7 linked regions of the Homo sapiens genome follow. The protein of the gene in region 3 purifies or fractionates together with the protein of the main gene of each other region. This does not show direct contact. Each region holds a gene or a part of one and is shown on either strand. Other genes may lie near its edges.

Region 1 (4,185 bases), on a different chromosome or scaffold from region 3:
TAAAAACACACACCTACCCCAATCCTCTAACAAATTTCCCATTAATCAAAACATATGATAGCTGCAATACTTACAAAGATTCCTTCTTTTATTGAAAACATTTTAATTTGCATATAAAATAATTTGCTTTCATTTTTAGAGATGGGGTCTGGCTATGTTGCCCAGGCTGGTCTTTGAACTCCTGGGCTCAAGTGATCCTCCCATCTCGGTCTCCCAAAGTGCTGGGATTACAGGTATGAGCCACCATACCTGGCCAAGATTTCTTCTTTTAATTATATCCCTTTTCTGGCACTAAAATAATTTAAGAGCAAAAATTTAAAAACAGCAACATGTCTGACTCTTACCCAGTTAGGCTCAGATACATAAATAGCCCACTCTGAACTGTTAGAGAGGTAAGATCTCAAATACCGACCTAAGTCAATGTACAGAATTACCTGTCTGTGGTCTCTTCCCCATGCACCAACTAATGAAATAACTAGACTTCTCACACACCTTCAGTAGGGCCACCAATTATACCCGTTTTATTTAGGCTAAACCTACAAAAGCAGCCTTGAATAAAACCAAGACTGGGCCTAGTAAAGGCCTACTGTTCTCCCAAAATGAGCACGTGAGCTGATGGGTTGTGGCAGGGTCTGATCAGGAGGAACAGGGGTTTCTGAGGGTGGGGTGTGCACAGGTAACTGGGTGGGAGGTGGTGTTGGCTGCAGAAGAGATGGACAAGGCTGGAGGGGGTCAAGTGCCCACCCTCGGGGGTCCCATCACACTTCTACTTTAGGATCAGCAGTTTCATGATGATGGAACTGCACAACTCGTGTTACTGTCACTAAAAGTGATTTACACTAATTCAGGGGTGCAAAGGCGGCAGCACTGTGTATCAGACATCACCAACATTTTGGATCAAAACATCTTGGTTCAAATTAGGACCCTATAAACTAGATTTTCAGCAAATGCCACAGCCTTTCTCGCTTTGATGAACTCATAGGAAATACGGTGACAACATCGATGTGAGAAGTCTGAGGACACTCCTCCTGAGGAATGCACAACCCCAGGTGTAGCCACCCCACACGGCAAAGCTGGAGAAATGGCATCAGAACAGACCCAACATCACTCCCAGAGGCACATGTGTTAGGGAAAGGCTTCTGCGGTACAGCGTCCTCTGTAGCACTCTCCAAGACTAATGTGGAATGGGCTCACTCACTCAGTCTTCACTTGATAAACAATAGTGTAAAAGGGGCTGAAATCTCATTAAAAACCAACCAAACCACCCAACTCAACCACCCACCCCCCGCAACCAAACCACCCAACCACCCAAACAACCAACGGTTTTCCAATCTAGTAACGGCACCCCCTTGGGACCAGGCAGAGTTTCCTTCCAGGGGACACACCTCTGCACAGGTGCTGGTTTCTCACCAAGACACACCTGGGCTCGAGCCCAGTTTGCCGGACACCCTTCACCATGTTCCATCTAATTTAAGACAACATCAGTGGTGCGTAGCACCAGGCCAATTATAAGACATTGAGGTTTTGAGTTTTAGCCGGTTTCATAAATGTTAAAATATGAAAAAATTTAGGCATCAGAATTGATGAAATATGATCATTTCATACTACCAACAATGGAGCAAATAATTTAACAATTAAAAAAGTAATGATGCTCATGGATGGACAGGTGGAGAGTTCTGAACCATCAGCATCTGCCTAAACCAACCCCAAAGAAATTCCCCGAGAAGCGTCCTGAATGTACCTGTGGCCCACAGCTCATCTTTCGACCTGCAACCTGTGCTACTGCACCTGTGAGGTGTTCTGAATTTCATCTGAACTCCAACCTCCCAGGTGCTGTTCTGAACCTTCTGAGAGAAGGGTGGTTGCTATGTCCACAAAGATTTCTGCTGTAGAATTAAATATGAGTTTTCCCCTTAGTATTGCTGTGTTTCCTAAGGACCACATGTGACTTTCTGCCTTTGTGAAAACAGGAGAAAGACCTTGCTTTTAAACACACACATGAGTGCAAACGACTTTCAGGAATCACGAGGCAGACCTCACAGCAGACCTCACAGTACTCCACCGCGCAGCACTCTCCAGACAGCAGACTGAAACGTTTATTCTTAACTTCTCAACAGCATTGGATAAAGCAAAGGCAACGTGTACCCGTAGCGCCGTGATCCTAAATGGGTCTCGAAGTCTTCCATCTTCGTCTTTCAGGTTATAACCTTCTGCTCTTTTATCCCGTTCACTTATTTTCCATAATTTTATAGTTTTATCTGAAAATAAAAACCTCATTCTCCATATGAAAAGAAAAACTATAACATGCATCACTACTGTTTGAGTACTGGTATTAGAAAGCGGTGTGGTCCTATATTGGGTTATAAGCTATGGGGTCTCTGAACATGAATATTTCCAATTGGAGGTGTTTTGTACAATAAAGAAAGATGTGCAGACGTGCAGAGTAACAGCATAATAAAGTGCACGTGTGGTTTTTGTTGCATACTTTGAATTTTCAACCTATCACTTGCTACCCTAGATAACTTACCCTCCCCCCAAAATTTAAAGCAGGAATAACTTCTAAAATAAAAAGGAATCTACACACACACAGAAAATTAAAAATAAAAAACTAAATCAAACAGCCACTTAGAACACAATTCTTACCATTTGTAGACAGTAGAAAATGAGCAGCATTCTGTTGTGGTAACCACCTAATTTTATTAATTTTTTCCTCAATTTCTAGACTTTTCAAATAGTCAAACTCCGGTTCATGACTTTGAAAGGTGCTGTAAACATTATATTCTCCCCTAGAATGAGGGCGGCTTTTATTCTGCAAGGAAACATGAGAGCTGTTTTAATGAACAAAGCACAGTGTAGAGAAAATTTCAGTACTATAAATTTGAATATCAAATGACCATACATATTTTTTAAAGCTAAAAAATCCTGGCTCAAAAAAATCTCAGATGAAACTCAGGGAAAAAAAAAAAAAAAAGAACGAACTTGATTTCCGACTCTTCGACTCCACTTCTAGGTATGCATCTGGAGCAGGTCTGCCGAATGCAGCCTTGCTGTATTTTCTGGAGCAGGTCTGTCAAATGCAGCCTGCCGTATTTTCTGAAGCAGGCCTGCCGAATGCAGCCTGCCGTATTTTCTGGAGCAGGTCTGCCGAATTCAGCCTGTCGAATGTAGCCTGCTGTGTTTTCTGGAGCAGGTCTGCTGAATGCAGCCTGCCGTATTTTCTGAAGCAGGTCTGCCAAACGCAGCCTGCCGTGTTCTCTGGAGCAGGTCTGCCAAATACAGCCTGCCGTATTTTCTGGAGCAGGTCTGCCGAATGCAGCCTGCCGTGTTTTCTGGAGCAGGTCTGCCGAATGCAGCCTGCCGTGTTTTCTGGAGCAGGTCTGCCGAATGCAGCCTGCCGTGTTTTCTGGAGCAGGTCTGCCGAATGCAGCCTGCCGTGTTTTCTGGAGCAGGTCTGCCGAATGCAGCCTGCCGTGTTTTCTGGAGCAGGTCTGCCGAATGCAGCCTGCCGTGTTTTCTGGAGCAGGTCTGCCGAATGCAGCCTGCCGTGTTTTCTGGAGCAGGTCTGCCGAATGCAGCCTGCCGTGTTTTCTGGAGCAGGTCTGCCGAATGCAGCCTGCCGTGTTTTCTGGAGCAGGTCTGCCGAATGCAGCCTGCCGTGTTTTCTGGAGCAGGTCTGCCGAATGCAGCCTGCCGTGTTTTCTGGAGCAGGTCTGCCGAATGCAGCCTGCCGTGTTTTCTGGAGCAGGTCTGCTGAATGCAGCCTGCCGTATTTAAGGCAAGTGTTAGTGGAACACAGTCAGGCCCATGTGTGCACATACTGTCTCTGGCTGCTTCTGCACCATCTGGGTAGAGGTGAGTGGTTGTGAAAAGGCCGCATGAGCTATAGAGGCAAAAATGTTTGCAATCTGGCCCTGGAGAGAAAGTGTCTGCTGAGTCTGCTCTAGAGGAGAGCCAGCACGGGCCTGAGGAGCGTGACACAGCGATGTGGCAGCTCCAACACAGTGGTAGTGAACCAGACGCCACACATATGCCAACCAGAGGCGAAGGGCAACAGTAAGCCACAGGGCCATGCAGGGACCACCACGAAGCCGCTGAGATAAATGAGCCAGCACAGACAACCGCACAGTGCTGCACAAGTGAAGCAGGCTGCACAGGTGCCCAGAGTGAGGTGCTGCTTACGTACGT
Region 2 (4,185 bases), on a different chromosome or scaffold from region 3:
GGAGGGGCACGTGGCGTCTGGGGAGGCCGGTGGATTGGCAGTGCTTCGTGGGAGAATGCTCCTCGGTCTCGGGAAGGAGCTTTTGAAACTCACGTGGGCATGAGGTTGAGCCGTTTCTAGAGTGGGTGCAGCCACAGCGCCCAGCGTCTTTCTCAGAAACTGACACTCTGTCCATTTAGGAGGGAGCCACATTGAGTCTTAAAAGCCACCCAGGTTTCTGAGCTAAGACCCAGACCTGTTGCCTTCTGTTTTTATTTTTCAAGCTCATTCCTGCCTTTGGATAGTAAGGTAGTTTTTAAAAATTTTGTGGAGACCGGGTCTTATTATGTGGCCCAGGCTGGTCTCAAACTCCTGGGCTCAAGCGATCCTCCTGCCTCAACCTCCCAAAGTGCTGGGATGACAGGCATGAGCCCCTGTGCCTGGCCCAGACCCGCCTCCTGTGCATTGGGTCCCTCGGTTAAGCAGGGGTCCCTGTAGCCCTGGCTGTAGGACCCTTGGATTTCCGTGTCTCCTTTGAAGCGGGCTCGGGAGATGCTCCCATCGCCACCAGCGCATTAGGCCTCCCGGTGGGCTCTATGGAGTGTGAAACACGAGGGAGGCACAGCCGCTCTCAGCTCCGCGTTCAGTCTTCGCGGCCTGGCATTTTGAGACAGGAGTGCGTCCTTTCAGATCCTTTCAGATCTTGGGTGGTGGCCTTTGGTTTCCGTTCAGCCCGTGGCGCACGGGTGGGCTGAGATGGCACACGCGCTTCTATGGCTTTGCCGCCTGGTGTCCCGCACCCCCAGCTTCCGTTAATTAATCCTCCTCATTTCACGAGGACCGACTCCCCACCTGCCGGTTCTCAGAGAGGGGAATCAGATGTGATCCCTGCTCGCCAAGGGCTGGCAGCCAGTAGAGCAAGGAGCCCGCCACCCCGCACCCCACACTGTCTGAGACCCACTGCAGCGCCCTCGGGCGCCATACCTGTTGGTGCTGCGGGAAGGGGCCTGTGACAGGGACAGCACTGTCGGGCAGCCTCCCACGCGGCCTCTCTCTGCCCCAGTTCCTGGCCATGGTGTTCCAGGACCTGCTGACCAACAAGGACGACTACCTGCGGGCCTCGCGGGCCCTGCTGCGGGAGATCATCAAGCAGACCAAGCACGAGATCAACTTCCAGGCCTTCTGCCTGGGGCTCATGCAGGAGCGCAAGGAGCCGCAGTACCTGGAGATGGAGTTCAAGGTGCCAGCCCTCGCCGCTGGGGCGCCTTTCCCTCACTGCGGGTTCCACGCGCCGCCATCCCCCTCGTCCTGGGTCCCATGCACACTCCACCCCTTCGGATGCTCTGGCTGAGCGTGGGTACGGGGATGAGTGAGGCTGTTTGCGGTGACGCGTCCCAGAGGGTAGCATAGGCTCTGTCCTGTGTGAGGACCTATGAGGGGCTGACCAAGCACAGGGGAACTGGCAACCCCTAGGCTGGATGGGATGAATTGCTGCCGGCAGCAAGGGGAGCACGGGAGCAGGGAGGCAGGGTGGGGCTGCGGGCTGCCTGGCTGGGTTGGAGACTTTTCGAGGGCTGTGGAGGGAGCTGGCGCTGGAAGGCACAGTGAGGGTGGATCACAGAGATGCCAGGTCCCTGCAGCCAACTCGCAGCCAGCCTGCCGGGGTGGCCTGTTTTGCGGACGGGGCTTTGTGGATCTCTGTTGACTGAACCTCCCTCCTGTGGCCAGACTAGGACCTTGTGGGCCACCGGCCCTGGTGCCCCTCCTGTCAGGCCCCTCTCCCAACTGGTCCTGGGCTCTCTCTCTGGATCCCTGCTTGTGTGTGTGTATGTGTGCGCATGTGCAAGTGTGTGCGTGCTGCACCCACGTGTTTGTGGAGTGGGGCTCCCGGGTGTCCCTTCTGGATACAGACCCCGTGCCGCGCCCACGTGGGTGTGGAGTGGGGCTCCCGGGTGTCCCTTCTGGATACAGACCCCGTGCCGCGCCCACGTGGGTGTGGAGTGGGGCTCCCGGGTGTCCCTTCTGGATACAGACCCCGTGCCGCGCCCACGTGGGTGTGGAGTGGGGCTCCCGGGTGTCCCTTCTGGATACAGACCCCGTGCTGCACCTGCAGGAGCGCTTCGTGGTGCACATCACCGACGTCCTGGCCGTGTCCATGATGCTGGGCATCACAGCGCAGGTGAAGGAGGCCGGCATCGCCTGGGACAAAGGAGAAAAGAGGAGTAAGGATGTGGGGGTGGCCTGGCCCTGCTTGGTGGGGGTCTCGGGTCCAGGCTGGTGGCTGGCGGCTCTCCGAGGCTGCACTGTCCCCTGAGCGCCCGGCAGGAGCGGTCCCGCAGCACGGCTACTCGGGGACACGGAGCCTGGAAGCTGCCGTCCCCGTTCCTGTCCATCCGGGCCTCACCCCAGCTGCAGGCTCAGACCCTGTTCCCATGAGCGTCCTTTGTGTGCTCCAGTTCTGGCCCAGCATGGGGGCATTGCAGGCGTGGTGGCCCCAGCCACGGGCGGGAGTGGGGAGGGGAGGTGGTGTTTGGGGCAGTCCGGGTGTTTGATTATGGGTTCACAGGAAGGCTGGGCCGCAGAAGCCCTCTAAGCCATTGACCGGAGCGAGTCACTCGGAACAGGAGGATTCCAGTCACCCACGCACGCGTCAGGGTCACTCCATGCCTCCCAGGGTGTTATTCCAGCTGGGAATCGTCCAGAAGCTGGGGGTGCCCTGAGTTACCCCCTCCCAAGTGCCAGCATTGAGTTGGACCCCCAGGGGTGCCTTAGCCCCTCATGGCCCATGGCTCGGATGGGCCACTAAGCTGCGTGTCTGTTTCAGACCTGGAAGTGCTCCGCTCATTCCAGAACCAGATTGCCGCCATCCAGCGGGATGCCGTCTGGTGGCTCCACACTGTGGTCCCCTCCATCAGCAAGCTCGCCCCTAAGGACTACGTGCACTGGTGCGGCTGGGGCCCTGTACAGCCCCTGTCCCACACCCCACTGAGCCGGGACAAGCCGGGGCCCCGCACAACCCCTGCCCCAAACCCCACTGAGCCAGGACAAGCCAGGCCCCGCACAGCCCCTGCCCCACACCCCACTAAGCCGGGACAAGCCAGGCCCCCACACGGGAGTCTGTCCCCTCTCTGCGGACAGCAGCAGCCGTTAGGCTCCAGGCAGGTCACCCTGTGCATTGGAGCCTCCCGTGGAGCCTCTGCCTTGGTTGGGGTGGGGCTGCCAGGCTGGGGCTGCATTTCTCTGCAGCGATTTTGTAAAGGGCTGTCCAGCCCGGCAGCCCCGTTCGGCCGCTGTGCAGCCTGGCAGCCCCGTGAGTGGTCCCTGGGTTCTTTGGTGGTGCTGTGAGGAGGTGCTGAGCTTGGGCACCAGGCAGCCCGGCCTCTGAGCGCTGGGGCCCGTGGGAGCGGGGTCCCTTCCCTGGAACTAACGGGGCTGGTCCCTGAGCACCCACATCATGACTGAGGGCTCTTCTCTGCCTGCCCAGCCTGCACAAGGTGCTGTTCACAGAGCAGCCGGAGACCTACTACAAGTGGGACAACTGGCCACCCGAGAGTGACCGCAAGTGAGTGCGCTGCCGCCTGGGGCTCCTGTGTGCCGGGCTGGGCGGGGCTGCGGGGTGCCGGGCCGGCTGCGGCAGGAAGGGCCAGTGGGAGTTGGGCGGCTGTTCCCATGGTCACAGCACCATCCTGCTCCTCCTCCACAATCCTGGGTGCCACCCTTCTCCCACTCCCATGCTGGCGTCCCAGCGCCACTGTAGGGATTCAGCTGCCGTCTGCGTCCACGTGACTCCAAGCCCCAGCCGCAGCCTCCCCCGGACCCCCGCCTTCCAGTTGCTTCCAGGGCGTCCACGGGCACGCCACCCTTCACGCAGTCTCAGATGCACCGTCTGCCCCTGCTTCTGTCCAGACAGCCGCACACTGTCCTTCCCCAGCCGGCTGGCCTCACAGCTCTGTCCCCCTTCAAGCCCCATGGGTGACCCCGTGGGTTCTTGGTCTACACTCCCCTCCAGCCCCGCCTGGGGCTCCTGCCAGTTCACCCTGCCCCCACCTCGTGCCCTGGGCGCTCTGTTCACCTTCACTGCGGCCTTCCGGTCAGGCTTTGGAGGTGTAGGGGTTATCTCTGTCTCCTGGCCCCCAGCTCCTTGAGGGCAAGAACCATCTAGAGGCCTCTGTGGGGTGGCAGAGTCTCCGTGTGGTGGTTGTAGGA
Region 3 (3,656 bases):
AAAATTCAAGAAACTTTCTATAGAAAAAAATGCAGTTACAATTTTGTTGAAAAAACAGCACACATCCTCATATCATAGTGAACCAAAACCACAGCTCTACAGAATTTTTAAATGCCCATGGGGTGTTTGCCCACCTCATCTCAACTAAAATCAAACTCCCTCTACCACCAACTTTATACCAAACATAAATCAATGGGCTATTAAAACCCCATAAATTACTTTACGGTTCAGTAATTTTTCACAAATTTATAGTTATGCAACAATCACCACAATCCAGTTTTAGAACCTTTCCATTATCCCAAAAAGATCCCTCCTGCAGTCACTCTCCACTCCCACTCCAGCTCCTGGCAACCACTGATTTACTGTCTTGAGTTTGTCTTTTCTAGAAATGTCATATAAATGGAATACAAAATGTAGTCTTTTGGCTAAATATCACTTAGAATATTTTTGAGGCTCACCCATGTTCTGGCATAGATCAGTGGTTTGTTCCTTTTCATAGTTGCACAGTCCTTCACTGTATGGCTATACCATTTTTTGTTTCTCTATTCACAGTTAAGATGAACTGGCAATTATGTTACTGAGGTTTTTGGCTACTATGAATAATGTTGCTATAATCATATACATGGAAGTTTTTCTGTGGACATATGCTTTCATTTCTTTTAGGAAGATTCCTAAGAATATAATTGTTGGATCACCTGGTAACGTTTAACTTTTTGAGAAACAGTCAAACTGTTTTTCAAAGTAGCTAGACCATGTTATATTCCCACCAGCAATGCATGAAGAGTTTAATCTCCGGTATTAACCAACACTTGGTATTATCAACCTTACTGATTACAGCCATTCTAATAGATGTGAAGTAGTAACTCAGTTACTTTAATTTGCATTTCCCTGATTACAATTGATATCAAGCATCTTTTCATGTGCTCACTGACCACTCATGTATCATCTTCTTGGGTAAAATATCTATTCAAATATTTTGCCCATTTTACAATTATCTGTCTTGTTATTGAGCTGTAAAAGTTTTTTTTTTTTAAATATCTGAATACAAGTACTTTTTTTCTGGTGTCATCTTTTGAAAAAACATAATCTTAATTTTGATAAAGTCCGATTTTTCAATTTTTTATGGACTGTGCTTTTGTTATATCTAAGAATCTTTAACTAACCTGACAAAGATTTTCTGATTTATTCTAGAAGTTTTGTAGCTTTAGCTCTTACATTTAGTTCTATGATACATTCTGATCCATTTGCTTCAGCACCATTTACTGAAAGAAACATCCTTTCCCCCGGTATTCTTTTGCTAAGGCTGCCACAACAAAGCATCAGAGAATAGGTGGCTTAAACAACAGAAATTTACTTCCTCACTGTTCCAGAGGCAGAAGTCCAAGATCAAGGTGTCAGCACAGTTGGTTTCTTCTGATGGCCTCTCTCCTTGATTTATGGATGCTCATCTTCTCCATCTGTCTTATCTTCTCCCCATCTGTGTCCTAATCTCTAATAAGGATACCACTTACACTGGATTAGGGTCCAACCATGTGACCCCACTTTACCTTAATTACCTGTCCAAATACAGTCACATTCTGAGGTGCTGTGGGTTAGGACTTAGACAAATGAATTTTGGGGGCTACAATTCAGCCCATTAACCTCCATGAGTAAGTTTTTTTCCCCCCAGATAGGATCTCACTCTGTCGCCCAGGCTCAAATGCAGTGGAGTAGCTCACCGCAGCCTGAAATTCCTAGGCTCAAGCAATCCTCCCACCTCAGCCTCCAGAGTGGCTAGGACTACAGCACATGTCACCATGTCTGGCTAAAATTGTTTTCTGAAGAGATGGGGTCTCACTAGGTTGCCCAGGCTGCTTGCATACTCTTAAAGGTAGCACATTCATTCCTCTGAGCACTGGGATTCATCCTGGGTTTTTAGCACAGGTTAGCTCTTTTCATAGTATTTGGAGTCACCGCAGAAACCTTCCACCATCTAGTCCAACTCCTTCATTTTACAGATGCAGAAAATAACGATCTCCAAAAATATTTCGTAGGACTTTACACAATTCAGATATTAATCAAGAAAATTCAGCTCACGCTAAAACCACATCTCACTGCTTCTCTAATATTAGGAAAGTCTGTGACAGCCATTTATCATTTTGAATATTCTTTAATAATAAAAATCAGTCTGTTGCCTAGGGGGGAAAAAATCTCCCCAAGATTTTTGGGTAAAGGTAAAGTCAAACAATTTATTTAAAGGGAAAGGCGGAAGCCTGCCACCCTAACAGCTCTTTACCATCTTTTGCTTCATGTTCAGATCATCATCAGTACACTTTGCAAAGCTACAATTGGCATGTAATGCATGTAATTTTGGAACTTGCTTTTTTCGGTTATCATTTCTACCATTCTAGATTTTTGTTTTTTAAAGACACAGGGGTCTTGCTCTGTCACACGGCTGGAGTGCAGTGGTGCATCATGGCTCACTGTAGCCTTGACCTCCCAGGTTCAAGTGATCCTCCCACCTCAGCTTCCTGAGTAGCTGAGACTACAAGCATGCACCACTGCACCTGGCTATTTTTTTTAACTTTTTGTAGAGATGGGGTTTATGTTGACTACGCTGTTCTTAAACTCCTGGACTCAAGTGATCCTTCCCGCCTTCCCCAGCCTCCCAAAGTGTTGAGATAACAGGCGTGAACCACTGCACCCAGCCTAGTCTAGATTATTACTGTCATGGTTAATGGCTGGAAACTATTCAACTGAGCTAAACCATATGTACATACATAATGTATGTAATGTACATAATATTCTCTGTTAAATATTTACAGCAAATGTTTTCTTGAATTTCTCAGAAAAATTCTTTTTTTTCTTGAACTTCTTCCTCGATATTTTTTTTTTTTTTTGAGACAGGGTCTCATTGTTCCCCAAGTTAGAGTGTAGGGTGGCAAGATCAAGTCTCATTGCAGCCACGACCTCCTGGGCTCAGGCAACTCTGCCCACCTCAGCCTGAGTAGCTGGGACTACAGGCCTGTGCCACCACACTCGGTTAATTATTATTATTTTTTTGTAGACAAGGTCTCACTATGTTGCCCAGGCTGGTCACAAACTCTTGGACTCAAGCAATATGCTCACTTTGTCCTGTCCTCCCAAAGTGCTGGGATTATAGCCACGAGCCACCGTGACCAGCTGATTTAAAACATTTTGACATTTGGTATGTTTATATATTTATAATACTTCAAAAGTATCTAAAAACACAAATCTAATTATATTACCTCTCCATACCCCAATTTACTGAACTAAAATATCTATTTGACCAGCCCTCTAACATTTTTCTTTTCCTTTTTTTTTTTTTGAGACAGTCTCGCTCTGTTGTCCAGGCTGGCGTGTAGTGGCGCAATCTCAGCTCACTGCAACCTCCGCCTCCCAGGTTCAAGCAATTCTCCTGCCTCAGGCTCCAGAGTAGCTGGGATTACAGGCACCCGCCACCACCCCCGGCTAGTTTTTTGTACTTTTAGTAGAGATGGGGCTTCACCATGTTCTCCAGGCTGGTCTCGAACTCCTGACCTCAGGTGATCTGCCTACCTCAGCGTCCCAAAGTGCTGGGATTACAGGCATAAGCCATCACGCCCAGCCTATTTTTTCAAACAATCTGACTGAGGCATTCATTCTCCTCCTTTTGT
Region 4 (4,185 bases), on a different chromosome or scaffold from region 3:
TTCTAGAAACAGTGAACACTGTCATACAGCTAGTACACAAAGTTTGGGGTGAAGAAAAAACAGTAATAAAAGAGAGAGCTAGAAAAAAAGAAAATAAGATATAGATTTTAATGCTAAAAATTAATGAGGCAACGTCAAAGATTTTTAAGCAAAGGTGTAACTATTTATCTACCTATATAGTGTCAGTAAGAGAAGCATGTACCTGAGAAGAGGAAAGAGTCTGGACTGTAAACTTAGAACGTTTCAGCCGCTAATAAATGCCACCATTTTTCTTGATTCAAGTAACTATGAAGTAACTGACATATATTAAGAGTTAACTTCACAATCTTTTCACTTAAAACTCTAAATGACATTCTCTTCCCTACTTACCAAAAAGAATAAATACTAAGCTCTAGCAGAAATATCACTTAAGAAAACCAGACAGGTAGACTGGGTGTGGTGGCTCACGCCTGTAATCCCAGCACTTTGGGAGGCTGAGGCAGGCGGATCACGAGGTCAGGAAATCGAGACCATCCTGGCTAACACGGTGAAACCCTGTCTCTACTAAAAATACAAAAAAAAAAAAAAAAAAAAAAAATTAGCCGGGTGTGGTGGTAGGCGCCTGTAGTCCCAGCTACTCAGGAGGCTGAGACAGGAGAATGGCGTGAACCCGGGAGGCGGAGCTTACAATGAGCCGAGATCGCGCCACTGTATTCCAGCCTGGGCAACAGAGCAAGACTCCGTCTCAAAAAAAAAAAAAAAAGAAAGAAAATCAGACAGAAGCCTAAAAGGGCAAAGAGTGAATTTAACCTAAGGAGTAATGTCAAAGAACTAAGTGGGAAAAAAAATGCTTTAAGTATATACACTGTCGATATTTTTAACAATTTGAAATCACAGATAAAATATTTTATCAATTTCCCACTATTATGAAAAATAATATAGAGGGAAATGAACATGTGCTTTAAAGATATAATCTGGCTTCCTATACATGTTCACATTATGTGTCTTAAATACAACTTGTCAAGTAAAAGACTTTCTCACAAACACCAGCACCCCTTAATGATCTTTATACTTCTGTCAACAAAAAACTTAAGTATCTGTTAAAACAAACATACAAACAAATAAAAAGTAAAAGAATGTATGACCTGCCATTCTCCCAAAAGCTGAGGCTAGGATCTTTGTGGTCATGTTTAGATGTGTGGAGGAAAAAAGAAGAAACAATCTTGGTTGTCAAATTCAGCAGGCTCTTCACAATGTCTTCCTTACAATGTCCTTGGAACATGCCGTATCATCCCTGCTTCTTCCTCCCACCCAAAACTCCTTTCCCTGACTGACCCTAACTACAATCTATCCCTTAACCCCATATTTTTTTTTAAGATGGGTCTCACTATGTCACCCAGGCTAGAGCAATCATAGTGCACTATAGCCTTGAACTCCTGGCCTAAGTGATCCTCCTGTTTCATCCTCCCAAATAGGTGGGGCTACAGACCTGATGCACCCCTGGCAAATACAAGTTTTTGAACTTTTTGTTTTTTAGAGACAAATTATTGCTATGATGCAAAGGCTGCAGTGCAGTGGATTTTCACAGGTGCAATTTTGGCATACTACAGCCTCAAACTCCTGGCCTCAAGCAATCTTCCAGACTCAGCCTCCCAAGTAGCTGATATTACAGGCATTTGCCACTGTTCCTGGCCATTCTTCCTCTTTTTAAAAGTCCTAAGGTCTAGTTTAAATTGGATTTCATCCATGAAACTGTTTCATCCATTAAACTTTCCCTAAAGTCTTCAGTTCACACAGGACCTTGCGCTTTGCCGAAGTCCTAATGTGCAAGTTAATTTAATACTCTTATCTTTTTTCATTTTCTGGCATTTAATCATTTTCATTCCTACTGTTAACCTGGTCTATGCCCTCACAAAATCACATCATATCTAAAGTGTTATAAAGCCTTTAGAATAGCACAGTGGTTATGAGCTTGAGTTTAAATCTCAATTCTACCATTTAATAGCTAGGTGAACTTGACCAAGATCTCTCTGTGCCTCAATTTCCTCACAGGTCAATGCAGAAAAAACAAGCACCTCAAAGAGTTACTTGAAGATTAAATAAGTTAACAAGTAAAGCATTTAGAATAGGGCCCAGTATATAGTTAGTACAAAAGTGTTATTTAAGCTGTTACCCATTTTTCCTTGCTCCAGGCAACTCTACATACTGCTATTGTATCACTATTGTATCACTCTTTCTTTCTTTTCTTTTCTTTTTTTTTTTGAGATGCAGTCTCCCTCTGTTGCCCATGTTGGAGTGCAAAGATGGGATCTCTGCTCACTGCAACCTCCGCTTCCTGGGTTCAAGTGATTATCCTGCCTCAGCCTCACAAGTAGCTGGGATTTCAGGTTCATGCCACCACACTTGGTTAATTTTTGTATTTTTCGTAGAGGTGGGGTTTCACCATGTTGGCCAGGCTGGTCTCAAACTCCTGACCTCAGGTGATCCACCCATCTCGGCCTCCCAAAGTGCTGGGATTACAGGTGTGAGCCACCGCACCCGGCCCACTCTTTCTTAAACAGGGGTTTGGTATGTCAGTGCTCTGCTCAGAACTCTCGTAGGCCTTCCATAACCCAAGGGTCCACATCCTAAGCTTGGTAAGCAAGGCACTTCACAACCTGGCACCACACTATCTAGTCAGCTTCATTTATTCAACAACTACTTTATACAAGATAGTAGGAAAACGTTCCTGTCTTCCAGAGTGTGAAAATTAATTACAAAGACAAGGCACAAACAAGAACATCACACAGAATAGATGTGCACCCTTGGCTACTCTTCAAAGAACTCTCTAATCCAACAAAGTCAGTTTCCTCAGCATTTGGAAAATGCAAAGCTCATTCAAAATTATCTGCTTTTTATTCCATCCTCATCCCCACAAAAAAAATAAAAATAACCAAAAAAACACCTTTTCTTATCTATCCACCCCTAATTTTAAAGTCAAATGTCATTATTCTTTTGCCATTGAAACTTACATAATATCACCTATCTCAACTATTTTCAAAGTGCACTGTCACCCTCTCTATCCAATGTAAAAGTTCCTAGAAAGAAGAAATAACAAATCCTCATCAGTTTGTCATTTTCTCCCCCTTTACCACTATGCCCTTCACTAAAACAAATCATGATAGAACAGGTGCTCAAAAAGATGCACTAGGCCGGGCGCGGTGGCTCACACCTGTAATCCTAACTCTTTAGGAGGCCGGGGCGGGTGGATTGCCTAAGCTCAGGAGTTCGAGACCAGCTTGTGCAACATGGTGAAACCCCGTTTCTACTAAAATAAAAAACAGTAGCTGGGCGTGGTAGTGTGTGCCTATAATCCCAGCTACTCAGGAAGCTGAGACAAGAGAATTGCTTGAACCCAGGAGGCAGAGGTTGCAGTGAGCCGAGATCACACCATTGCACTCCAGCCTGAGTGACAGAGCGAGACTCCATCTCAAAAAAAAAAAAAAAGATGCACTAAGTTTAAATTAAACGTGAGACTAGAAGTAGACAACTACTACCACTAGTAAGTAAACTTCAGTGAAACTGGAAATAGACTACTATGTCAACCACTAGCATGTCACCGGTACCCCAAAGCCTCAAATCAAATAGGGCCATCCAAATCACAAGAGTTCACTCACTATCCTTTCTATGTAACCACTATATGGGTAGATCTGCTTGCTCAGTGGTGCCTTGAATCAACAGAGGAATTAATAACCATTCTAGGCTGGGCACCGTGGCTCACACTTGTAATCCTAGCACTTTGGGAGGCCGAGGCAGGCAGATCACCTGAGGTCAGGAGTTCATGACCAGCGTGGCCAAATGGTGAAACCCTGTCTCTACTAAAAATACAAAAAATTAGCCAGGCATCTGGGCATGGTGGCTCATGCCTGTAATCCCAGCTACTTGGGAAGCTGAGGCAGAAGAATCACTTGAACCCAGGAGGGAGAGGTTGCAGTGAGCCGAGATTGCGCCACTGCACTCCAGCCTGGGAGACAGGGCAAGACTCCGGCTCAAAAAAAAAAAAAAAAAAAAAAACCATTCTACTATCTGCCATCTAATTTGAAGAGCTTGACTTCCGAAAAGGATGAAGGATAATACACAGGGCCAGCATCCAACAAGGCAATATCCAACTGCTACATTACTGAGAAGATGATTTGGTAAAGATTATGAAACTCTGCTTTGTGCCAA
Region 5 (4,185 bases), about 12 Mb from region 3:
CTAATACATCTGTAAACTGAAAGAAAATTTCCCTTTCATTGAAAAACTCTCATCTCAAACCATTTACCCTGCACTAAATGGGAGTTAGGAGAAATGAGTCATCAAGACAGATGTAGAGATATTAACCCAGAACCAGTTTTCTGGACTCCACCCATCTACTTTCCTAAGTTTATAAATCCTTTGCATGCATTTAGTGCCTTTCCTAGGGGTGTGCCACATAGAACCTTCTGGAAATGGCTTTCTAGAAGTTATAAATCTGGATCCTCAACTGGGGAAAAGGATGAACCATCTTCCACAGCTTCAAGTGGACTTCATTCACTTCATGTCACAGCTGCTTGATTTCCCCACAGTTCATTTCTGTAGAAGAGAGCCTTCTGGTCTGTTTTTCCAGATGGCGAGCTTGGGGTGAGTTAGAAGTGCCTGATTGGACTTCACAACTCAGCGTTTTTATTGGCTATTTTTGTTCTAGGTACAATGGAGGTTGATGGATTGTTACTTTTGGTTACCAAAACCAGGAGGAGGGGAGGGTGCTGCTTAGGAGAAACACCCAAAAAGAACAGACCAGCCTTTCTCAGGGACTCAGGGGTGGTGGCACTGCTTCCAACTTACTGCTTCATTTAGAACACCAGATAATAAGCACCCAGGACTCGGCCTTTAGAAGTCAATGGAATAAATAAGCTGGAAAAGGTTGAAGAGAAAAAAGCCAAGGAACATGTAAGTAGAAGATTATATGGAGCCATTTAAGAGCACAAAAAGCAAGAGTAACAAGGCAGCAGATGGAATTTGGCCCCGCCTGGCCCTGCCAAGCTCACTCTGGGAAGCACTGTGTCGAAAGTGCTCTCTTTCTGTCCCCTGAAGCATTCAAGTTCCCTAGCCAAATTCTCAGGCTGTTTCTATGGAGCTTACAAAAAAAGAGCATAGCAGGGTTGATGTGCCCTTTCCTTGTCATTCTGCATCCTCTTCTCAGCTTCATGCAATAAATCTCTGGCTTAAATGAAATTGTTCAAAGGAAAATGGAAAATGGAAAAAAAAATGGTGGAGGGGCAGGAGATACTGACTAGTTCTGGTTTTTCACAAAACAAGAAGAATTTGTCTAAGAGTAAACGGTGTTTATTTTTTGTTGATTTTTTTCAATCAAATGGAATTGCTTAATTAAAAAAAACTTATCTCTTTTCTCCTTAAATACTACAGACAACCTCATTTTATCGCAGCAGACACCTAGGAACAAAACACTGGACCCACCAGAGAAAACTGGGCAATAAAAGCATCAGAAGTTCAAGTCAACTATGGAAGAATTACTGTTAGCTGGCAGCTTTCAATTCTAAACAGAAGTGTCCCAAACCTATTGGGTTTGACAAAAGTTTCTTAGAACTGGGGAGCTGGGAATGTTGGACTCCTTTTAATTCTATTCCAATCATTTCCTGTATAGGGAAATTAAAGTCAATGCATCAAATGAAGACCCAAAGAAACATTTAAAAACTTGTTTGACTAGTATTCAGTATGTGAGATTATTAAGTAATAACTTGTCCACCTAGTTAACCTTGTCCTGGAATATATATAGGTTATTTGTAGCCGCCACTGCTATAATATTTTCTGAAGGATGCCAAGCTGTATGCAAGATCTTTTTGCTAAAGTCCAGACTGTCGACACTGATCTCGTCTTTTCTCCGCTTGCCCCCCACACACACTTTTCGGGGTTTGAGGATAGCCCGGGGCTTGCTGTTTTCCCTCGAAGCCTCAAGGGTCACATCACGCTTGGTGTTTCTGTCGAACATCCTGAAGAAGTTGTTGTAGGAGCCTGTCATGATGACACTGCAAGGCAGAGAGCAAAGGCAATGACATATCTTCACTGTCTTTTCTTTTTGGAGCAAATGATACCATGTTATGGCCAGCTTATGACACCATAGGTTTTATTAAAAACAAAAACCAAAAAATGAGAACAGGCTCTGCAGTGTGATTATTGGCTTTTTGTTTTTTTTTTGTGTTTTTTTTTTTTTTTTTTGAATCACTGAAAGCAATAGGATTTTTGGCTGGGTTTGGAAATGAGGGATGGTGAGAACTCTCCTTGTAATTTGCTTTTGCTCAATAGATTCTTTTTGCTTCTTTGGCTCAGAAAAGGTGTCCACTGGTTTTAATGATCCCAGTCCTACCTACCTCCCATCAGGAATGTGAGACTAGAATGAGGTTTGTCGAAGTAGACACACTTTTGAAAACAATAAGCAGTTGTACGTGTTTAAGGTTTGGCCACTGTCAACAGGGTTCCTGGGCCGTCTGGCCTCTAAGGCTTCATGGCATCAGTGCAGTGAGGGGAGAGATGCTAGTGGCATCGTGCACGAACCCGGGGCGCGACCTCTCCCCTGCCGAGAACTAGCTCTGAATTCGGCCTTTTTAGAAAACTTATCTACGAAATGGATGTCATCATGGTCTTATCTAGGAAACAAGTAAGGAAATTCAAATTTTAAAAGAATCTGGGATGGAGAAATAAAAAGATTTTATATGGTTTTTTTCCCACACTTAATGGACAGATGGTTTCCACATTTTTATAAGTTATCCCCTCTTAGGCATAGCTGCAATCGATCAGGAGAGTGGCAAACACCCAATGTCTTCCAGAGGCAAGGTACTGAATGTTTAATGGTGACATTTCAGACACGGTGACAAGCTGAGGTGGGGAGGGAGAGATTCCTTGGGCCAGGGCAAGTACCCCAAGTGCCATCACACGGTGGTTCCCCTGGAGTGGGGGGCTCCTACTCATTTCTGGGTGGAGCTCTGACTGGCTCCTTAAGATGGGAGAGCAGGAACTCTCGTGTATTTCTCAAATGATTTGGGATGTGTAGAGAGGTGAAGGAAAAAGCTGACAAGATTGGGCCACAGCAAGGGGGATGTGTTTTTGGGCACGTTGTCACCTGTACCAGGTAAATTAAGCAAAGGTTAGATTTTGTTACTCTGGCTCATCAAACTGATACTGTGAACTGTGTCTGTGTACTCGAGTGGACTGTTATCACCTTGTCAGGCAGGGCGCTGAGGGCTTTGCCTCCATGATCTCGTTTCAACTTCTATTATCCCCTAAAAGGGTTTTACAGAGAAGTAATTTGCTCAGTGTCACATTGCTAATTGGTGGTAAAGTCCACCCTCAAACCCACATATGGTTGACTCTGGGGCATAAGTATTCAGCCGGTTGGCCTCACTGCTTCCCATACTTTGACGTTTGCTTGCCCACCATGACCCGACTTATTTTTAAACAAGTAAGAGATTATTTTCCAAAAAAAAAAAAAAAAAGACTACCAACCTTATCTGAAAGAGAAATTAAACTTCCCAGTTGTGATGTTATAGAAAGAGTGTTGATCTTAGGATTCAAACTCTAAACTTGTTACTTTTGTCTCTACTACTTACTACTTTATGAGGTTGGGCAGATTACTTTATCTTGCTAAGCCTCAGTTTCCTTAACTGTAAAATGAGAACGATGGAAGCAATCTTGTTAGACTGTGGTTGGGATTAAATAAAATGATGTGTACGAATGTGTTTGGTATATAGTAGGTGCCTAATAAGTGTAATTTTTGAATCAAGGCTAAGATAGAGGAAAAACTTGAGCAATAATAACAGATATGTAAATAATAATATATGAATAAATAAATACCTATAAATAAATAATAAAATGAGAGGGCTGGCTTCTTTTTCCCATGGTGGATTTTGTTCTTATGTCACAGTTGCTTTGCTCTCTGTCCTATACCAACTGGTCAGTGTGACTTGGGTCCTTTGCCACGTGGAGACTCCTTCCAAGCCTGCTAAGGAGGGGATTCATTTTGGATCAGTGGCAAAGAAAGCCAAGAAACAGGTGGAGTGTGAGAGAGAGACAGTTCATATTCACTGAAAGCTTGAATCTCTGAATGTCTTGCCATAACAGAATTTCTATGCTTTCAAACACTATTATTGGTGCCACCTTCATCAAGGAACGAAATCAGCCCCTGGTAGCTTGCACTTAGTTCTCATGGAAATCAGAGAATCATTTGTATTTGTCAAACTAAAAATGAACTATTGGGAGGTATTATGAAGCACTGTTCAAATCAAAGGCCTTAAAATAGTAATAAATCACTTTGAGGGAATGTGATAAATGAGGTTGACTAGAATTCAGTTAATGAACTACCAGGGCCGTTGGCCAGGTCTCCACTAGCAGCTTCAAGGGATAATT
Region 6 (4,185 bases), on a different chromosome or scaffold from region 3:
GATGCATATGAAACATAAATGAATTTCATGTTTAGGCTTGGCTCCCATCCCCAAGATATTTCATTTATATGCAAATATTCAAAAAAAACTTTTTAAAATCAGAAATTCTAAACACTTCTGGTCCCACGTATTTCAAGTAAGGGACACTCAACCTGTACTCCCCACTCCCCGCCTCCACCCCACACACACAACAGAGCAAGTACAGCAAAAGTTTGAGAATCGCTGAACTGGGTACACATGATTTTCTGTATGTTTGAAATGTCTCGTAATCAAAAGTTGGAACGAGGGCCAGGCGTAGGGGCTCACGCCTGTAATCTCAACACTTTGGGAGGCCGAGGCGGGCGGATCACCTGAGGTCGGGAGTTCAAGACCAGTCTGGCCAACGTGTCAAAACCCTGTCTCTACTAAAAATACAAAAATTAACTGGGCGTGGTGGCGGGCGCCTGTAATCCCAGCTACTCAGGAGGCTGAGACAGGAGAATGGCTTGAACCCGGGAGGCAGGGGTTGCAGTGAGCGGAGATAGCGCCATTGCACTCCAGCCTGGACAACAAGAGCGAAACTCTGTCTCCAAAAAAAAAGGAAAGAAAAGATAAAATAATTAGAAGGCAATAAATGCTATGGGGAAAATTAGAAGGTGCTGATATGCCGGAATGATGGGGAAACTCGTTTAGCTGACAAAGAAAGCTTCTTAGAGGTGGTGACATTTGAGTGGGACAGCAAATGCCGAGGAGAGGGAGAGAGTCAGGGAAGGAGGTGGCCTGGGCCCCTCCTGGAGTACCACAGGGACGGACCACAGGCCAAGTTAGGAGTGGAGGGGAGGCTGAGGGGGGTAAAAGCCAATGAGAAGCAGGGTCGTGGGACAGGGGAGTGAGCAGGCCCAGGATTGGCTAGACTGAGGGCAAGAGGCGGGGCTCTGAGGAAGCGAAGGCTGGAATTGGCCGCCGGACACTCACAGTGCGGGAGGAGGCGGGGGCTGAGGGCGAGGTGAGCGAGACCATCTCCTGGATGGCGAGGCGTAGCTTGAGTCGGTGCAGCGGGTTGCTGATGCCGATCTCGCGCTGGATCTCCGTGTCTGACAGGTTGGCCATGATGGCACCGCTCTTGACATTGGCCCGGCAGGCGGCCACATACCAGGCAGGCATGCCCACCCACAGCTGCAGCGGAGGGACAGAGGGACAGAGGGGACAGAGGGACAGAGGAGGAGAAAATCGGAGAGATGGGGGAACAGGGAGGTGGGGAAAGGCAAGGGGGTGGGGAGCGAAACAGAGACGTGGGAAAGTTCGCAAGGAGAAGAAACAGGACAAGGAAAAGAGACGTGGACGAGATGAGGGAGAGTCCGAGGGAGACAAATAGGGAGAGAAACGGGGGGCGGGGGGCGGGTGGGGGAAGAGGGAGAGGGAGAGAGAAAGAGAGAGAGAGAGAAAGAAATAGAGAGAGAGAAATAGAGGGTGGGGAGAGACAGGAAGCCGGAGACAGGGAGACATCGGCAGGGCGATCGGAGACATGAGGAGAAATATGGGGAATGACAAAAGCGTGGTCAGAGATGGGAATGGTGCCGAAAAATAGAGACAGAGAATCCAGAAAGAGAGAGTAGAGAGAACGACAGGAGACCATGACCCAGGTGGGCAAGGCCAGAGTGGCAGGGGCAGAAGGAGAAGGAGAAAGAAACTGTTTAGGTGAACAGGAAGCCCGAGCCCTCCTGGGTCCTCACCTGCCAGGCCCATGGCCACCCCCACCTCTGGGCTAGAAGCAGGGTGCGCCAGGAGGACCAGGCAGCCCCTACCAGTGGGGCTGTCAGAGGGGTTGGGGACCAACAGTCAGGGCATTTCTGGGCCCCAGTACCTCCAGCCAGGACACCACGGTGGGCCCGTCCCAGGCAGCAAAAGGTAGGCCCTGGCGGCAGGCCTCCTCCAGGAGTTCATGCCTGTAAGGGTGAAGGGGCCAGGATAGAAGCTGTCAGGGATGGAGACCCCCTGCTCTGTGGATGGCCCCCATCAGCACACATACACACACACACACATGCACATACGCACACGCAGCTTTTATGAATGTACAAAACACGGCAGAAGGTCAAAAAATACATGTGAATCTGTAAATCCTCTCCCCCCAACCCCTATCAAAAGAGAGAACAAAATAAGAAAAACAAAAGAAACAAAAAATATAATATAAATGTAAAAAATACAAAAAAAATTTTTAAAAAAAGAAAGAAAAAATAAAAACTCTAGGAGCTCCTGGGTTTCCAGGCAAGCAAGTTCAGGATCACGGACACCTCCTCCCAGCATTGAATTCCCATTTCTGTTCACCACCACCACCGCTGCACACACACACTCACACACCCTCTCACACACACACACACTCATACACACACATACACGCACACACACACCCTCACACACTCTCACATTCACATACACACACACACGCTCACACTCACACACACTCACTTCCTCTTGTTCCTTCGGTCCTTGTCTCCTGGGCCTGTCAGCTTGGCTAGCCCCAGAGGGTCAGTGGCCAGTGTCTCATCTGAGGGTGTTCCAGCTGGAGGCAGGGAGGGGTCGAAATTTGGAAAATCTCAAGGGGGAGGCAGAATCTTTCATGCTGGAGGTGATGAGGAAAATGCCGGAAAGGCAGAGGCCCTGAGGGAGTAGTGAGTGAGGGCACATCGAGGAAGTGATAAAGGCAGACAAGCGCCCATGAATTGGAGTCATCCCCAAAATACGGCTGGATGCACTGGGATGCCCTTGGTAAGGTGGCAGTTGTATGCTGGTAAATGCCTAACAACCGGCTCCTTGGGGAGGCAGAAGGGAATCCCTGATTTGTAGCATTTGCCCATTTCCATGGTGTAAATAATCCCACCATGGCCAATTTCAAGCTACCAGTGTGATGTCAGCCAATTCCTGAAATAGCGGATCTCCTGAGCCAGTGCCAGCGGGCTCCAGCACACCACAGGAAGGTGCCCTGCTTTGAGGATGCCCCACCCTCTTCCTCTGTTTAAAAAATAGGTGGCTGGGCACGGTGGCTCACACCTGTAATCCCAGCACTTTGGGAGGCTGAGGCAGGCAGATCACAAGGTCAGGAGATCAAGACCATCCTGGCTAACACGGTGAAACCCCATCTCTACTGAAAATACAAAAAGTTAGCCGGGCGTGGTGGTGGGCGCCTGTAGTCCCAGCTACTGGGGAGGCTGAGGCAGGAGAATGGCATGAACCTGGGAGGCGGAGCTTGCAGTGAGCCGAGATAGCACCACTGCACTCCAGCCTGGGCGACAGAGCAAGACTCCGTCTCCAAACAAAAAAAAAAAAAAAAAAAAAAAAAAAAGGTAAATGAGTCTGTAATCCCAGCACTTTGGGAGGCCGAGGTGGGTGGATCATCTGAGGTCAGGAGTTCAAGACCAGCCTGGCCAACATGAGGAAACCCTATCTCTACTAAAAATACAAAAAAATTAGCCAGGCATAGTGGCGGGCGCCTATAGTCCCAGCTGCTCAAGAGGCCGAGGCAGGAGAATCGCTTGAACCCAGGAGGTAGAGGTTCCAGTGAGCCAAGATCGTTGCCACTGCACTCCAGCCTGGGTGACAGAGTGAAACTCCATCTCAAAACAACAACAACAAAAACCAAAAAACAACAAAAAAATAAGTAAAGGAAATAAATTCCTTTACCTACCCAGTCACCCAAGCAGGTCCCAGAGTGCCCTTTCCTTTTCCCTCCTCCTCCCGCCTACCTTGGCAAGCTGTGTTCCTTCCAAATTCTAAATAAATCACCAAATGAATGAAGACATGAATGGATGTCAAATGAACATACAAAGAAGAAAGAAAGGGAGGGAGGAAGGGAGGAAGGAACAAAGGAGGGAAGGGTTAGAGTGAGGTACTCACCCAGAGAAGAGCTGTCCCGGCCTGGGGGTCCCATTCGTCCCTTCTCTTTCTTGCCAAAGAGACGGCCTATGGATGACTTGATGCTCTTCTTCTTGGGGGCTTTGTGCAGAGAATCTGGGGTGCCCTCACTGGGAAAGCAGGAGAGAATGAGAGCATATGCTTGCTGAGATGCCCCCTCTCCTCCCAAGTCCTTGTCCACCCCCTTCTCATCTTCCCAAGCCAGCTTCTCCCTGTCCCTATCCCTTGTCCCTGCTGACCTTCCCCGTGGGGGTCCCCCATCTTCCAGGGACCCCGCCTGCAGTGCCAAGGCCTGGG
Region 7 (4,077 bases), on a different chromosome or scaffold from region 3:
GTCTCAGCCATGCGTGTCTGTCCAGCCCGTGCAGTCAGTGAGTCGGGGCTCTGCTCCCACCTACAATGCTGACTGCTCTGAACCCGTGAGAAAGGGCTCAGACCATGTGATCCCACATGGGCCGTGTCGACGGCGCCTTTATGTGCTCAAGGTGGCAGGAGGAGGGGGCACACCCCAAAAGGGGCCTTGAGAACAAGGGTCCCCCAGGCCTTGCCAGGCTTGCCCCAGATGCAGGTTTGTTGTGGCCCTCATCGTGTAGGCGGTCTTGGGGCAGCCTTCACCTGTCCCTGGGGCAGCCCCCACGTGTTGGCTCTTCTCTGATGGGCCTGGCTCCAGGAGGCTCCGAGGATGTGGCACTGGGAGGACGTCTAAGAGCGCACGTGGCTGGGGGCCTGGTGTGCAAAGAGGATGGTCACATGGCTCAGGTGGCCATGAGGCCTTCCTGCCCTGGTGTTGGCTCTGGAAGCCTCTGGTGCACCCAGCCAGGAGGAGGCCCAAGGGCTGAACCCCAGTGGGCCAGGGGCAGCTTCTGGAGTCACTTGAAGGACAGGTGGCGGCGGGGTAGCCGAGTGGGGGGTGCGAGAGCAACCAGGCCCCGCCCGTCATCCCGGCACGGCTGTGGAAGCACAGCACCTGTCAGAGGAGGGCCCGGCTCAGCCTGGGCAGGAGACGGTGCCAGCCCTGCCCCCTCTGAAGGGCCTGCTGGCCACCCCCGCCCCAGTCCTCCGACAAACTTCGCTGCGGGGTCAGGCTTATCCAGAAATCGTGCACAGTTCTGTTTGTCCAATCCCTGCCCTTCAGATGTTTTTAAGGTTTGGGGGCCGTAGGTCTTCCTGAGATAGGAGCCCTGCAGCCTGCCCTGCCATCCTAGAGGTGGGAGCTGCAGTGCACCTGGCAGCCAGGCCCTGGCCAGTCGAGGGTGGGGCTGTGAGGCAGCAGGGAGACCTTCGTGCTCCCAGTGAGCGGAGCCGACTCCACTGCTAGCGGACTAGATCCCAGATTGAGATGCTGTGCGGGGGCTGCGGGCCCCAGGTGTTTGAATGGGGTGCTGCTCACCCCTGCAGGCCTGCCCCGCCTTACACTGGCAGCCTGAGGCCAGCAGGAGGGACCCTGTGGGACCTCAGTCCAAAACCAGGTACCACCGCTGCATCTCTTTCCCCAGGACAAGATCGCAGAGGAAGGTGGGCGGCGGGAGTGCCCAGCCGTGTGACAGCATCGTTGTGGCGTACTACTTCTGCGGGGAACCCATCCCCTACCGCACCCTGGTGAGGGGCCGCGCTGTCACCCTGGGCCAGTTCAAGGAGCTGCTGACCAAAAAGGGCAGCTACAGGTGAGTGTGAGGGCTGGGGTGCCCCCTCCCCGCACGAGTATGTGGGTGCCCAACGGTATGAAAAAGAGGGTTTCCAGCCGGGCACAGTGGCTCACGTCCTAATCCTGGCACTTTGGGAGGCTGAGGTGGGCGGATTGCCTCAGCTCAGCAGTTCGAGACCAGCCTGGGCAACATGGTGAAACCCCGTCTCTACTAAAAATACTAAAGAAATTAGCCAGGTGTGCTACTTGGGAGGCTGAGGCAGAATTGCTTGAACTCGGGAGGCAGAGGTTGCAGTGAGCTGAGATCACGCCACTGCTCTCCAGCCTGGGTGACAGAGCGAGACTCTGTCTCTACCCCCGCCCAAAAAAAAAAAAAGAAGAAAAAGGGCTTCCGGCCATTTCAGCTCATGTCCCTCATCTGCAACTAAAGCCACTTCTCCAAGCCCTAGGCTGAGGGTGGCATCAGGCTTTCGGCCCCACAGGACTGAGAGGGTCCAAAGGGACCCCCGTCCAGGGCCCTCATCTTCGGGGTGGGAAAACAGAGGCCAGACCCCTAGACGACGATGGTCTGAACCTTGTGTTAGGCTCCCCTAGGCCGACCTTGTCTCCAGGCTCTGGACTCATGTGCTTTTGCCTGACTGAAAAGCCAAGCCCCCTCCTACCAAGGTTCATTCGCCCTGGGCCACTCAGCCCTGCAGGGCCCTGCGTGCAGCCAGCCTTGGAGGCTCCCGAGTGAGCACTGGGCGGTGAGCAGAGGGGGCCTGACCCCAAGAGCCTGGCAGAGCCTGGCGGGTGGTTCCCACCGTCCACAAGCCACTGTGCAAACACCCCATGACTGCAGATGTGGTGCTGAGGGAGGGCCCCAGTTGGGGTCACCTCCATGACGGGGCTCAGCCCTTGGGAAGCAGACACCCCACACCCGTCCACTTCCCCCCTGCAACTCCTGAGAGGCTGGGGCAGGTACTCCCAGGGGGATGTGGGGTGCTCCCAGCAGGCAGTGAACTCACCCCCCATGGCTGCCCACTTCACCCACATGTGGTCATTGCACTGTTCACTGTTGCCCTGGGAGGGGGCGCACATGCAGTGGGGGCCGTGGGGCATGGACAGGAGGCTCCTCGGGATGGGGTGTGGACACGCCGTCCCCTGCCACAGGCCTCCTTCCCATCTGCGGTGCTGCCTGCTCACTGCCCTCCTCACCTCCGTCCTGCAGATACTACTTCAAGAAAGTGAGCGACGAGTTTGACTGTGGGGTGGTGTTTGAGGAGGTTCGAGAGGACGAGGCCGTCCTGCCCGTCTTTGAGGAGAAGATCATCGGCAAAGTGGAGAAGGTGGACTGATAGGCTGGTGGGCTGGCCGCTGTGCCAGGCGAGGCCCTTGGCGGGCACGGGTGTCACGGCCAGGCAGATGACCTCGTACTCAGGAGCCCGATGGGGAACAGTGTTGGGTGTACCACCCATCCCTGTGGTCTACCCGTGTCTAGAGGCAGGTAGGGGGTCCCTCCAAGTGGTCCACAAGCTTCTGTCCTGCCCCCAAGGAGGCAGCCTGGACCACTCCTCATAGCAATACTTGGAGGGCCCAGCCCAAGTGAGGCAGCCGAGGTCCCTGCTGCCAGCTTCAGGTGACCCCCCCCCATCCCCCGGCACCTCCCTTGGGCACGTGTGCTGGGATCTACTTTCCCTCTGGGATTTGCCCACGTACCCAGGTCTGGGTGGGGCCCAGGCCCGGATGCAGAGGCCTGCAGGGCCTCTGTCAATTGTACGCGCCACCGAGTGCCTTCAACACAGCTTGTCTCTTGCCTGCCACTGTGTGAATCGGCGACGGAGCACTGCACCTGCCTCCAGCCGCCGGCTGTGCAGTCCTGGGTCCTCCTTTCTGAGGGCCCGTGTAAATATGTACATTTCTCAGGCTAGGCCAGCAGGGGCTGCCCGAGTCTGTTTTTCATGCGATGACACTTGTACAATTAATTATCTTTTCAAAGGTACTTGGATAATAATGAAATAAAACTGTTTTTGAACCTGCCCTGGCTGTGGTGTGTCTTCTGCGGGTGGGGCCTGGCCTAGGTCTCCCAGCCTCAGCCCCCGTGGTAAAGGAGGGCACACTGGCCTCCAGCAGGCATGGGGATCACCTGTGACTCAGAGGCTGGCAGGGCTAGAGCAGGAACGTGCTCCACCTTCCTGCCCTGGAGCCCCCAGCTGGGCAGAGCTGCATCAGGCCAGCCTTGCTGAGGGACCAGGCACACAGAGTCCAGAACCAAGCTCACTCTTTATTCACAATGCACAGCTCCCTCTGGTACCCAAGGGGGTGGCTCCTGTCCAGCAGTGATGGCGGGGGTGACACGGGGGCAGCTACAGTTCCTCCTTGGACCCCATAGTGGAGTTGGCCGGTGGCTCCTAGAAAGGGTCACAAGTGCAGCTCGAAGCTCTGCTCCCAGCCTACCCCTGCCCCCGCCCCTGCCAGCCCTGTGTAAAGAGGATTTGTGCAGAGGCCTGGAGCCCTGGCTTAGGGACACCCACCGGGAACGGGGCTGCTGGCTCCTCCGGGGGCTCCTCCGTGGGCAGCACGCCCCCGTTGTCCAGGAACTTGGAGAAAGTCTCCAGGTCCCTGGTGCTTTTGTATTCAATCACCTGAGAAGAGGCAGGGGGATCTGGAGGACACGTGGGGCCCAGCCCCATGCCCAGCAAGATGGCACCCCGGCTTCCTCCCCAGCCACCTGTCCGCCATACCTTCCGACCTGGCCCTGCTGGGAAGTACTTGAGAGTAGGGAAG

Evidence for each region.
Region 1: the proteins of PPP2CA (region 3) and PPP2R2D purify together in Homo sapiens (affinity purification with mass spectrometry; 9 studies listed by BioGRID and IntAct, with this or other methods). This does not show direct contact.
Region 2: the proteins of PPP2CA (region 3) and INTS1 purify together in Homo sapiens (affinity purification with mass spectrometry; 5 studies listed by BioGRID and IntAct, with this or other methods). This does not show direct contact.
Region 4: the proteins of PPP2CA (region 3) and SLMAP purify together in Homo sapiens (affinity purification with mass spectrometry; 5 studies listed by BioGRID and IntAct, with this or other methods). This does not show direct contact.
Region 5: the proteins of PPP2CA (region 3) and PPP2R2B purify together in Homo sapiens (affinity purification with mass spectrometry; 4 studies listed by BioGRID and IntAct, with this or other methods). This does not show direct contact.
Region 6: the proteins of PPP2CA (region 3) and PPFIA3 purify together in Homo sapiens (affinity purification with mass spectrometry; 4 studies listed by BioGRID and IntAct, with this or other methods). This does not show direct contact.
Region 7: the proteins of PPP2CA (region 3) and AXIN1 purify together in Homo sapiens (affinity purification with western blotting; 4 studies listed by BioGRID and IntAct, with this or other methods). This does not show direct contact.

What each region holds. Positions count from the first base shown.
Region 1 is NC_000010.11:131,938,655-131,942,839, reverse strand, and holds part of PPP2R2D (serine/threonine-protein phosphatase 2A 55 kDa regulatory subunit B delta isoform), read right to left. Parts: intron 2,810-4,185; coding exon 2,644-2,809; intron 2,259-2,643; coding exon 2,146-2,258; intron 2,073-2,145; exon of another isoform or gene 2,048-2,072; intron 1-2,047. UniProt on the Homo sapiens protein: Substrate-recognition subunit of protein phosphatase 2A (PP2A) that plays a key role in cell cycle by controlling mitosis entry and exit. Involved in chromosome clustering during late mitosis by mediating dephosphorylation of MKI67.
Region 2 is NC_000007.14:1,494,172-1,498,356, reverse strand, and holds part of INTS1 (integrator complex subunit 1), read left to right. Parts: intron 1-1,042; coding exon 1,043-1,219; intron 1,220-2,092; coding exon 2,093-2,201; intron 2,202-2,803; coding exon 2,804-2,924; intron 2,925-3,463; coding exon 3,464-3,541; intron 3,542-4,185. UniProt on the Homo sapiens protein: Component of the integrator complex, a multiprotein complex that terminates RNA polymerase II (Pol II) transcription in the promoter-proximal region of genes.
Region 3 is NC_000005.10:134,202,074-134,205,729, forward strand, and holds part of PPP2CA (serine/threonine-protein phosphatase 2A catalytic subunit alpha isoform), read right to left. Parts: intron 1-3,656. UniProt on the Homo sapiens protein: Catalytic subunit of protein phosphatase 2A (PP2A), a serine/threonine phosphatase involved in the regulation of a wide variety of enzymes, signal transduction pathways, and cellular events.
Region 4 is NC_000003.12:57,762,558-57,766,742, reverse strand, and holds part of SLMAP (sarcolemmal membrane-associated protein), read right to left. Parts: intron 1-4,185. UniProt on the Homo sapiens protein: Associates with the striatin-interacting phosphatase and kinase (STRIPAK) core complex, forming the extended (SIKE1:SLMAP)STRIPAK complex.
Region 5 is NC_000005.10:146,588,416-146,592,600, forward strand, and holds part of PPP2R2B (serine/threonine-protein phosphatase 2A 55 kDa regulatory subunit B beta isoform), read right to left. Parts: intron 1,812-4,185; coding exon 1,532-1,811; 3' UTR 1-1,531. UniProt on the Homo sapiens protein: The B regulatory subunit might modulate substrate selectivity and catalytic activity, and might also direct the localization of the catalytic enzyme to a particular subcellular compartment.
Region 6 is NC_000019.10:49,139,774-49,143,958, reverse strand, and holds part of PPFIA3 (liprin-alpha-3), read right to left. Parts: coding exon 4,128-4,185; intron 3,999-4,127; coding exon 3,871-3,998; intron 2,540-3,870; coding exon 2,446-2,539; intron 1,926-2,445; coding exon 1,844-1,925; intron 1,156-1,843; coding exon 955-1,155; intron 1-954. UniProt on the Homo sapiens protein: May regulate the disassembly of focal adhesions. May localize receptor-like tyrosine phosphatases type 2A at specific sites on the plasma membrane, possibly regulating their interaction with the extracellular environment and their association with substrates.
Region 7 is NC_000016.10:286,693-290,769, reverse strand, and holds the end of AXIN1 (axin-1), read left to right. Parts: intron 1-1,162; coding exon 1,163-1,330; intron 1,331-2,521; coding exon 2,522-2,648; 3' UTR 2,649-3,330; downstream 3,331-4,077. Other genes in the region: PDIA2 (protein disulfide-isomerase A2 precursor), read right to left, coding at 3,657-3,701, 3,825-3,935, 4,035-4,077. UniProt on the Homo sapiens protein: Component of the beta-catenin destruction complex required for regulating CTNNB1 levels through phosphorylation and ubiquitination, and modulating Wnt-signaling.